3 linked regions of the Homo sapiens genome follow. The protein of the gene in region 2 purifies or fractionates together with the protein of the main gene of each other region. This does not show direct contact. Each region holds a gene or a part of one and is shown on either strand. Other genes may lie near its edges. The genes, in order: ARL5B, CD164L2 and SLC19A1.

Region 1 (3,743 bases), on a different chromosome or scaffold from region 2:
ATTTTCCCCTTACATCTTTTATTACCTCTAGTCTGAGTAAGGACACCTCCAACGAAAAAAGACAAGACAGCAGCCATGTAACAGAAAAGGGAGAAAGGAAAACGGGAAAGGATATAAAGGGAAAACCAACTACTTCGGTAACGTTTCGATTCTCCAGCTCAGGGGAAAGAGAAAACTGGTGATTTTTGTATTAATCTTTATACCTTTAAGCATGTCTTAAAATGCTGTTTTACCGCTGGGCGCGGTGGCTCACACCTGTAATTCCAGCACTTTGGGAGGCCGAGGTGGGTAGATCACCTGAAGTCAGAAGGTCGAGACCAGCCTGCCCAACATGGCGAAACCCTGTCTCTACTAAAGATACAAAAATAGGCCGGGCGTGGTGGCGGGTGCCTGTAAATACCAGTTACTCGGGAGGCTGAGGAACAAGAATCGCTTGAACCCAGGATGCAGAGGTTGCAGTGAGCTGAGATTGCGCCACTGCACTGAAGCCTGGGCGACAGAGAAAGACTCTGCCTCAAAAAATAAATAAATAAAAATAATATTTTAAATGTATGGATAATACCCACAAAGTGTGAAGCTCTGCTCACTTTGAAATCATTTGATAAGTAATATTATCTGTGGTTACTGGATACAGGCATATACATATATATACACATGTGTGTGCCTGTATCTATATTTATAACCTTGAAAAAGACTGCTTTAGTGTTCTTATCAATCTACAGAACAAGTCAACTAAAGCCATTCCATTACCTCCACAACTTCTTAAATCCAGAAAAAGATTAGATACCTACATTAGCAGTAACAAATTGGTACCAACATAAAAGGAAATAAAACTGGCTTATTAACGATGCCCGGCTCTTAAATGTAAAATGAAACGAGTTGATTTTCAAAACTGGTTTCAATTACTAAGAAACCATTCTGTTCAAAGGACGCCTCAAACTTTAACTTATCGTCGGCCCCTTTTTTGGTCTGGGTGTTTTCTCTCTTCAGAAGACATCACATCTCATTCTGATTCAGAACAGGTTTTGCAACTTCTCGGCCCTTTGGACCTGCCACTTCCAGGTGTCTCATTACCTGTTACAGACTAATTACGGACACGTAACGTCTTACACAAAACCGAAAAGCATTTAGTTTCTGAACTAAATGCTTTAAAAAAAAAAGTTTACAATGAAGATGCTGGAAAACTCGTGCATCTGAATAGGACAACTCATTCCCAAGTCCTAGAGGAAAGGAGGCGAAATCAGAGTGAAAGTGCACTGGCTTACGGCTCAAACTGCAGGGCGGGAAAACAAAGCACCTACATTACTCAAAAAAAAAAAAGTTCTAGGTTTCTGGGCGGACACTTATCCTGGGGATACACATAGACACAAGCACGCTTCAATAAAGACGAGAAAGGCCCTCCATACGCCTCCTGGCATCATTAGCTGTATCCCGCTTTACTTCGCCAATATCCAAACATTCTCAGTTTGGATTCTGGGACGCCAAATACCTTCTCTTCTGCCTCCCTATTTCTCCCACACGTCAGGTCTCTCCTGTACGTCCTCCAGGTCTAAAACACTGAGTTTCTGCCCGCCCCCTGGCCTAAGTCCCTTCCTCCTCCGCGTCTCCGAACGCTCTGTCCCCTGTCTCCGGTGTCCCCATCGGCGGCGGGACCCTCTGCCTCGGATTCGAGCCGCCGCGCAGCTCCATTCTTCTCACCTTGGTTACAGAAGAGGCTCCACAGTTTGGCGAAGATCAGCCCCATCACGAGCACCGGGGCGGGCCGCGGGGTCCCTCGGCAGCAGGTGCCGCTGCGCCGGGTCCCCCACCGCGGCGCGGGCTGCGCGGAGCCGAGGAGAACCCGCCTGAGATCGCGCAGCGAGGGCACTGCTAGGCCGAGAAGCCTCGACCCGACCACTCAGAAGGCGCCGCGACGAATCCCCACCGGACAGCCCTTTGTTTCGAGCCCACTGAGCCCAACGCCGACCCGTAGTCCCCTCGGTCTGTACCCACCTACCTACCACAGCCTCTCCACAGCCCCAAGCCCCGCCTCCACCCCGCCTCCCCTCCGGATCCCAGGACCACCCATCGCCGGAAGCTAGGCGCGTGACGACGGCGCACTTACGGCAACCCACGCCTTCGACGTGGCGTTTTCTTCGGTTTCACTTCCGGTAGGAGAGTCCCAAACGGCCAGCGGCTGGGAATTTGCGGTATCGCGGGGGGGTGGGAAATTTCCCTTGGTGCGTGCTCCTTCTGATGTCAGCCTTCAAAACGTTTGTGGGACTCCCCTTTGATTTGAGTCTCTGCTGCTAGCAGCTGCTTCCCTGACCTCTAAAACCAGGAAAGACCATAGGTTCTCTAAGTGAGCAGCCGCCGTTTGCTGCTCTTAGAAAACTCACAGAAGTGAAGAGTGTTTCTTTCCTGACTTATTCCTGTTCCCCTAGGCAGGCGTGCTAGGGGTTAGGAGTTCTGCCGTGATTCTTCTTCATTCATTTATTAATCTATTCATTCACGTATTCATTCATTGGCTTATGCATTTATGTACTCATTGATTGATTGATCGATTGCAGACGAGGTCGGGCTGTGTTGCCCAGGGGGACTCAATTTCCTGGGCTCAAGCGATCTTCCTGCCTCGACTTCCCAAAGTGGTGGGATTGCAGGCTCAGCCACCGCGCCCGGCCCCTGTCGTGATTCTTAGTTCTGAAAAGAATTGATTGGGAGACGAGCCATGGAAGGCCTGGAGCCACAGAGTTCAGTTATGTGATTAATAATAACACATAATAATAACACATAGCACCCCTCTCCATTTTGCCAAGCATTAGGTATGTTCGTGGATCCCAGATCGAAGTCCACGCATAAGCCAATTCGCTGTGTAATTGTTTTCAATTCCACTTTCCATGGTTAGGTTCTAGCATTGAAAAGAAAAGCTTCACAGCCTGGCATGAAACGAAACTGAATGTCCTTGAAACCAGTTGACGGAGGAGCAAGCTTAAAATTTTTTTAGACTCTGACTTCAGTCAGATGGTTGGATTTTAACCTTGGCAACGTGGCCTTTTAACATGCCAAACTCTTGAGTTAACCTGTACAAGGAGAATGTATGACTTACGTCCTCCCAGTGCTATGGTTTAAAGACCCTTTAAGACTTAGATGCAGGATAATATGCTCCAACGTTACAACATTAAAGGCAAGTTTCAACCTCCTATGTAGAGGAAAAAGAATGTACTGACCCTATGCAAACTTAACTTTCATGACTATCAGTTGGACCATAAATGTGAATAATTTTGTGTTTGTGTAAGTAATGGCTTAAAAGGACATTTTTAGTCCTAGCTTCATTATCACAAAACAAACTTTAGATTCCGTAACAGCTTCTTCAATTGTTAGACATGGATGTAAACCACATTCTGCTTTTTTTTTTTTTTTCTGGCTTTCGGATTTCTAAGAAACCATTTCTGAAAAGAACAAAGCATTTTTGTATGAAGATGCAGACATTTGGCTGGGCGCTGGGGCTCATGCTTGTAATCCCAGCACTTTGGGAGGCTGAGGCGGGTGGATCACGAAGTCAAGAGATGGAGACCATCCTGGCCAACATGGTGAAACCCTGTCTCTACTAAAAATACAAAAATTAGCCGGGTGTGGTGGCACGCGCCTGTAATCCTAGCTACTCAGGAGGCTGAGGCAGGAGAATTGCTTGAACCTGGGAGGCAGAGGTTGCAGGGAGCAGAGATCACACCAGGGCACTTCAGCCTGGCGACAGAGTGAGACTC
Region 2 (3,743 bases):
TCCAAGTGATCTCATTGTTCAATTCCCACTTATGAGTGAGAACATGCAGTGTTTGGTTTTCTGTCCTTGTGATAGTTTGCTGAGAATGATGATTTCCAGCTTCATCCGTGTCCCTGCAAAGGACATGAACTCATCCTTTTTTATGGCTGCATAGTATTCCGTGGTGTATATGTGCCACATTTTCTTTTTTTATATATATAATATATATATTTTATTATACTCTAAGTTCTAGAGTATATGTGCACAATGTGCAGGTTTGTTACATATGTATACATGTGCCATGTTGGTGTGCTGCACCCATTAACTCATCATTTACGTTAGGTATATCTCCTAATGCTATCCCTCCTCCCTCCCCCAGAACCCGAAGGGTCTCTTTTCCCCTGAGTGGGCAGTTTTGGGGGCCTCAGGGACACTCAGGTGGAGATGCCGTGGACCCATGGGAGGCACAGCAGAGGGAGCATGGCCTCCAGCATCATTCAATCCTAGCTTTACATCCTGGCCTGCTGCATTGAAACCCTGTGCCCCTGAGCAGCCTGCAAATGGGAAATGACAAAACTCATGCCTAGAGGGTAGCTGTGGACATTAGATGGGAAGTTGCATGTAAAAGCTCTCAAAATGTACATTCGGCTAGTAAGGGGTCAATAATTGCTAGCTATATATTGTCAGTTACAGGTGTGGCAGTTGTGAAGTCAGAACTGGCCTGGAGATGATTAAGAGATCTGTTGGCTCAAAAAAAATTTTTTTAATGGGTGCATAGTGGGTGTATATATTTATTGGGATACGTGACCTGTTGGCATTCATTCATTCATTCATTTAAAACAGGGTTTCACTCTGTTGCGCAGGCTGGAGTGCAATGCCATGATCACAGCTCACTACAGCCTCAAATCCCTGGGCTCAAGCAATCCTCCTGCCTCAGCTGTTGGGTTTCAAGTGGGGACTGATGGCAGTGGAATGTCCAGGATGACCCCAGGAGAGTGTGGAACAGGGCTTGGGACTAACCTGGGCCACCATCGATTAAGAGAGGGTTAGGAGAAGCAGATGGGGGAAGGAGGGGAGAGGAGGGGAGGAGGAAGAGGAAGGAGAGGAAGTGCCCCCTAAGGAGCCTGAGGAGAACCAAAAGAGGCTGGTGCCAGGGCAGGAGTGGTAGCCGTGGGGAAGGCTGCGGAGAGGCCCAGTTGGCCTAGTAATGGCGTCACCCCTGACCTGGCCAGAGGGTGTGGTAGGCCAGAGGCAGACACAGCGGATGAGGGGCAGAAGGGAGGCGGGTGGAGGGGTGCAGTGAATGGAGAGGGAGCACCGAAGCTAAGCTTGGGCAGCCAGAGGGCAGGGGCCAGCTAGGGCCCGGCCCAGCGGTCATGGGGCCTGGGTGGAGGGTGTACAAAGCGGGGCCTGCACCGAGCCCTGAAGGCAGGGAAGTGACCTCGTCTCGAATCCAGATTTTTGCCACTGCCTCTCTCCGTGACCTCGAACGAGTCACTCATCTTGTCTGAGCCTCAGTTTCCTCACCTGTGAAGTAAGGATCAAAGCAGTCGGTACTTTCCAGAATTTTCAAGAAGCTGCCCTTGGAGGCACATAGTAACCACGCCAGCCACCAGTCCTGGACCCCACCTGCTTTAGTCCAAGCCCCGCCCCAGACCCCCGAACTCACCTGGCCGCGCACACTAGCCACGCCCCTAACTGGCCCCGCCTTCACCTGGCTCCGCCCCGACCGACGAGCCCCGCCCCACCTGCCGCTCCCACTGGCCACGCCCCCACCTGGCCACGCCCCGGTTGCCCAGGTCTCGCTCCGCACACGCTCAGCCGAGCCCAGTCTGGGAGGGACGCGCCCGGCAGCTGTCCACCGATCCCGGCCACCGCCCCCGGCCACCCCCACCCCGCGAGCCCATGGAGGCTCCGGGACCCCGCGCCTTGCGGACTGCGCTCTGTGGCGGCTGTTGCTGCCTCCTCCTATGTGCCCAGCTGGCTGTGGCTGGTAACTCGCGGCAGGGTCTGGCTAGGGGCTCGACGGGGACGGATGGAGCTTGCACCTCAGCCAGCCGTCTCCCCAGGAGCAGCCTGGGCTTGAGGGGAGGGGGCTTTCCGGCCAAGTGCAGGCCTCCAGGGGTGGGAGAGGGGGCTCCAGCTCTGTGTGGAGCCCTGTGTGTAAATATAGGCCCCAGGTGTGGGGGCCTAGGGAGCTTCAGGTGGTCTGGGGGAGGTGGCTCCAACTGAATCTGGGAACCCCGGGTGTATGCAAAGGGAGGGGCTCTGGGTGAATGTGGGGAGGCTCTAGGTGTGTGTAGACCTCTGCTGTGGAAGCTCCAGGTGTGCGCTGGGGCTTGGGGATCCAGGGGTGAGTGTGAGAGCCCAGATGTGTGCAGAGGGGCGAGGGCCACCGGAGTGTTGGGTGGGAGGGTGGGCGGGTGCCACAGCTTGGCTTCGAGGAATTCTCCCTTCCCACTCCACCGCACTACCAGGTAAAGGAGCTCGAGGCTTTGGGAGGGGAGCCCTGATCCGCCTGAATATCTGGCCGGCGGTCCAAGGGGCCTGCAAACAGCTGGAGGTCTGTGAGCACTGCGTGGAGGGAGACGGAGCGCGCAATCTCTCCAGCTGCGTGTGGGAGCAGTGCCGGCCAGAGGAGCCAGGTATGGAGCTGAGCCCTCCCCAGATTGAGTGCCCCCAGCTCTGAACCCCAAGGCCCTGGCCCCTCTCCCCAAACCTCCCCCCTGCACCTTCTCTCACCAGGACACTGTGTGGCCCAATCTGAGGTGGTCAAGGAAGGTTGCTCCATCTACAACCGCTCAGAGGCATGTCCAGGTAAGGGGGTTCTTGCACCTAAGCCAAGTTGCATGGGTCTCCCCAGCCATAGCCTGCCCCCCAGGAGGAAACAGCCTCTCTCAGGCGGTGGATTTTGCTCACCCATACCTGGGCCCGGTATCAGTTCTGCCTTTAGCTCACTGAGAAGTCCCCTCCTCTCTCTGCCTATTTCCTCATCTGAAAATTAGTACAGGTGTGTGGAGGGGATGGGAGTGTTAGCTCTTCTTCTAGTTTAAGGCATAGCAAGGACTTTGGAAGTTCAGAGGGAATGAGAGGGAGTGCTTCCTGGAGGAGGTGGCATCAGTAATGAGCCTGGAAGGTAGAGATGGAGAGAGAGCACATCTGGTGGAGGGAACTGTGTGGGGCTTGCAAGTATGTTGGATGTCTAGAGTAGGGACAGGGCTGCATCTGAATCGGAAGTTTAGCGGTGAGTGGGGGCTGGGGTCTTGATGGGAGTCAGGGGGTGGGAAGGCTGCTTTGCTATGGATCACCTGTCTCCTCAGCTGCTCACCACCACCCCACCTATGAACCGAAGACAGTCACAACAGGTGAGTACTCCCTGGAGACGGGGCAGTGGGAGGAGCAGAGGTGCAGGGGAAGACAGCTCTGGGCTCAGGCACTGACATGCTCTGTGACCTCGGCCCTGCGCCTTCTCCCTCGGAGCCTGTCTCCGCATCTGTGAAATGGGTTGGATGATGCCTTTCTCATAGAGTTGCTCTGCAGGTTTTATGAGAAGCTGTACAGTGCCCACTTCAGTGTCTGACTCACTGAAGGCAATCAAGAAATGACAGTTCCCATCCCTCCTCCCCATTGCCAGTTCTGGGAACTCAAGGTCACCCCTCGGGACTTGTCCTTGGAGGTGAGGGTGTGTGGCTCGAGTTGCTCAGGAGACATCCTCAGTGCCTGCCTACTGCACCCTCCAGGCCCAGAGAGGGTCACAAGGCGGG
Region 3 (3,743 bases), on a different chromosome or scaffold from region 2:
ATCCACACTGCTGGGCCCCTGCTGATCCCTCCAACCCAGGGCTTCTCCCAGGGACCAGCTCTCCCTGCCATCCCTGACGCTCAGGCACTTAACTATTTGACAAACCGATAATGAAACACGCAAGGACGGGGACCGCTGGAGGCTCGTGAGGGCCCAAGCACAGGATCCATTCCCAGATGCCAGTGTCACTCCCAAGTCACCTGCGTTTGTAAATCTCTATTTTGGGTGGAGCCCTCTGGAAGCCCACGCCCCACTGTCTGTGGCCACTCCTCGCAGTCCTCAATGGAGGTTTCTGTAAGTTCTTCACGAGTCTCCTGGCTCTTCCCTCAGAGCAGCTGCCTCTAGATTACAACTGCCAAGTGCTGTTGGTGGCAGAAGCCCTACCTCCCCACTCCGAAGCAGCTCCTGCAGGAAACCTGGGCCTTGTGTGGCTGGGGAACTCCCAGGACTCCTGCCACGCAGGGGGACCCGAGGGCAGCTTGGGCAGGCCCCTCGCGGCCGGGGGCGGATTCGCTCGGCTACACCTGACCGGAGAGACAGGTGAGGGACTGGTCTTTGTGGGTCCTGCGGGGTCCCCTTGGGGCTGTGGCTCCCTGCCTTGCTGTCTCCAGGCGGGAAGGGGGTGGGAGCCATCCTTCTGTGGGAAGGGGTCTAGGAGCCCCGCTGCTGTTCATCCCCACTTCCCCTCGGCTTCCTGGCCTGTCCTGCGTGTAAAGGGAGCAGGCTGCCCTGGCGAGCTGGCCCCATGGCTGGCTCCTCTCTGCCTGGAGGGAAGGAAGGGCCCCTCCTCCTCCGCGTTGCCCCTCCTGTCTTCCAGCAGGGCCAGGTTCTGCCCACCCGTGGAGAAGGCCAGTACAGGGGAGAGAGCCAGGGCTCCCACAAAGCAGGGGGTCCCTCCAGGTGAGGCGCTCCATCCTGTAGTGTTCCCTTAAATTCTGCAAGCTACCCCAGATCCCCCATTTCCAGCCAACAAATCCTTTTTAAGTTCCTTTGAGATTTGTTCGTGTGGCTTGCTACACTCAGGACTCTGGAAAGAAGGCCCAGGCCAGAGCTTTGGGCAGGCGGCCATTTAGGGCAAGGGCCCTGTGTTGGCTTCCTGGTGGGGTTGCCCTGCTGGTGGGCGGGAGACCAAGAGCACCCCCGCAACACCAGGAGGCAGGTCGCGGATTGTGCTGTCTACACTCCGGAAGGGGTACATTCCAGGGGCTGCTGCCCCAGACTCACCCCTCGCCTGGGACCCGCACTCTTGAGCTGTGGGTACCACGGTGGCCGTCCCCTTCTGTTCTGTGCAGTGGACTTCCTGGCTCCTCCTTAGCCTTGGGGCCCCCACAGCCCTCGGCTTGGCTTCCCTCCCCATAGCCAGGCCCTGGGTAACTCCAGGGGAAAGTGACCCTGAGGCCCCCCACTTCTCCCCGTGTCCTGCACAGGCCTTGGGCTTTCGGCGGTGCTGTCTGCCGCAGCCCCACGCCTTCCTGGGAGAGTGGCCCAGGCCCCCCTTCCTGAGTGTGACTGCGCTGCCGTCTGCGAGGCCTGCGCGGGTCTCCCCCGGGCTGTCCCTGCTGGGATGGGGACTGGTGGCCCCGGGCCACGTCCTGGATCCGGCTTGCTCCTTGGTACAAGCCCGTACGGGTCACGGTCAGGCAGGAGGGCGGGCGGCGGGGTCCCGGGGGCGCCGAGTTCGGGGCCGTGCGGTCCCCAAGAGCAGGCTGTGCGTGTCCCTGTTGGAGCCCCACGAAGGCGGCCCAGGGCCACCCCTGAGGGCGCGTGGGCCCGACCCGCGTCCCGGATCCAGCTTGCGGCCAGGAATGCAGGTGTTCCAGGGTGCCAAAAGGAAAACGCACAAGGCCTCGTCGAGGAGGGGGGGTCAGGAGGGGACCGGGGGTGGGAAGAACGCGGGGGAGAGGGATGGCAGGGTGCCCGCCCGAGGGACCGACACCTCCGCGAGTGGCACCCCAGGATGCTGACGCCGGCGGGGGTGGGGGCCCGAGGGGCGGTCGGGGTCAGGGGGCGGCCCCAGGGGTAGGGCCGCAGCACGAGGGGCCGCGTGACCCCGGCGGTGACCGGGTGGGGAGAGGCCGGCGCCGGGGCTGGGAGACGGCCGTGGGTGGGAGGGTGCCCCGTGGGGACGCTCCTGCCGCAGCGCCCGGCCACGCGCGAGGCCCCGCCCTCAGGACGCGTTCGGCGGGACGGACCCGCCCACCCCGCAGCCGCGCGCCCGCCGCGCCGCCTTGTGGGCGCTGTAGTCCCGGAGTCCGCGTGCGCGGGGCCGGGTCCGGGAGCCCCAGGGCAGCCGCCCCGCCGAGTCGCAGGTACCGGTGGGGAACGGGGCCACGGGGCCGCGTGTCGGGGGCTGCGGGGTGTCTCGGGGCCCTGGGGTGAGTGCGGGGCGCGGGCCGAGGTTTGCAGGGCCCTGTGAGGTGAGTGTGGGGGCTGGCGCTGGGGTCCGCGGGGCCCTGGGGAGGGTGCGGGGCGTGGGCCGGGGTCTGCGGTCTGCAGCCTGGGGTCCGCGGGGCCCTGGGGAGGGTGCGGGGCGTGGGCCGGGGTCTGCGGTCTGCAGCCTGGGGTCTGGGGGGCCCTGGGGAGGGTGCGGGGCGTGGCCGGGGTCTGCGGTCTGCAGCCTGGGGTCTGGGGGGCCCTGGGGAGGGTGCGGGGCGTGGGCCGGGGTCTCCGCGGGGGTCGCGGTGGCCCGGGCGCCTGGCAGAACCGTTGCTGTGCAGCGGGTTTCCCGCCGCTCGCTTTCCGCCGCAGCCTGCGAATGGGGTGGGGAGTCCCGGCCCCCAGCCTGCCCTCCGCGTCATCCTGGGGCGCCAAGTCCCACCCCCGGGTCTGGAGGAAAGCGTGGATCCGGCGTTCGCGCCCAGGCACGTGTTGCTTCGGGACGGGCCAGCCGGTGGGTGAACCCTGCCAGCCACGCGTGGGGCGGGCCCCTGGCACATCTCCAGACCATTGTCTCCTGTGCCAGAAGCTTTGTAGGTGCAACTTCCCCTTGGAGCAGCTGTGGGTGCGGATCCAGCGGAGCAATCCCGAGGCGTCTCAGAGAGAGCCTGGACAGCCGCTGGAGCCTTTCCCGAGTGGGTCCTTCCAACACCGCTACAGCAGGAAAGCCATCCCCCTAGGGTCCTGTCCATCGGAAACTCCTGTCCTGGGGAGTCTGGCCTGCCTGGCCTCAGGACACAGGCCAACTAAGCTGGCCCCGAAATCCAGAATGCATCCAGAGGGAAGGTGGGATAAAGTCCTTGGAGGCGCCTGTTGGCCGCCCTGTAAAGAGGTGGCCTCCCCCTACGGAGACCCGAGGATCCCCGCACAGCCCAGATTCAATCAGCAGAGCCGAGGTGCCTCTGGCCCAGTGCACCTGCCTGCCCTGTCCAGGCCTGGGAGCCAGGCTGCATCTCACTGGCCGCCTTTGCCTGGGTGCCACCTGTGCACTGCTTGTTGCAATTGCTAATTGCTTTCTTTCCGAAGGGGCTTTGGTGGATTTTTATAATTCCAGATAGTACAGTTATCTCTGCTGGACACAGATGAGAAAGAGTGCTTCTCGGGTGTTTGGGCCTGCAGCAGTGATAGCCGGAGGGTCTAATTATGCTGTTAGGAACCCTGAACTTGGTCATCTGAACAGGGGTGGGAGGGTGTGCAATGCTTTCTTCTTCTTCTTTTTAAACTAGCAGGCGTTCTAAAAAACATAACGAACATTCTTGGTTAGCCTTCCAGAGTAGGAGCTGGTTTAAACACGGAATGATAGGTGG

What was found.
Region 1: the proteins of CD164L2 (region 2) and ARL5B purify together in Homo sapiens (affinity purification with mass spectrometry; 2 studies listed by BioGRID and IntAct, with this or other methods). This does not show direct contact.
Region 3: the proteins of CD164L2 (region 2) and SLC19A1 purify together in Homo sapiens (affinity purification with mass spectrometry; 3 studies listed by BioGRID and IntAct, with this or other methods). This does not show direct contact.

Annotation. Positions count from the first base shown.
Region 1 is NC_000010.11:18,657,639-18,661,381, reverse strand, and holds the start of ARL5B (ADP-ribosylation factor-like protein 5B), read right to left. Parts: upstream 1,952-3,743; 5' UTR 1,745-1,951; coding exon 1,699-1,744; intron 1,656-1,698; exon of another isoform or gene 1,490-1,655; intron 1-1,489.
Region 2 is NC_000001.11:27,381,381-27,385,123, reverse strand, and holds the start of CD164L2 (CD164 sialomucin-like 2 protein isoform 1 precursor), read left to right. Parts: upstream 1-1,790; 5' UTR 1,791-1,884; coding exon 1,885-1,972; intron 1,973-2,456; coding exon 2,457-2,624; intron 2,625-2,724; coding exon 2,725-2,796; intron 2,797-3,299; coding exon 3,300-3,344; intron 3,345-3,743.
Region 3 is NC_000021.9:45,540,934-45,544,676, reverse strand, and holds the start of SLC19A1 (reduced folate transporter), read left to right. Parts: upstream 1-2,236; 5' UTR 2,237-2,309; intron 2,310-2,350; exon of another isoform or gene 2,351-2,417; intron 2,418-2,830; exon of another isoform or gene 2,831-3,205; coding exon of another isoform or gene 3,206-3,222; intron 3,223-3,743. UniProt on the Homo sapiens protein: Antiporter that mediates the import of reduced folates or a subset of cyclic dinucleotides, driven by the export of organic anions.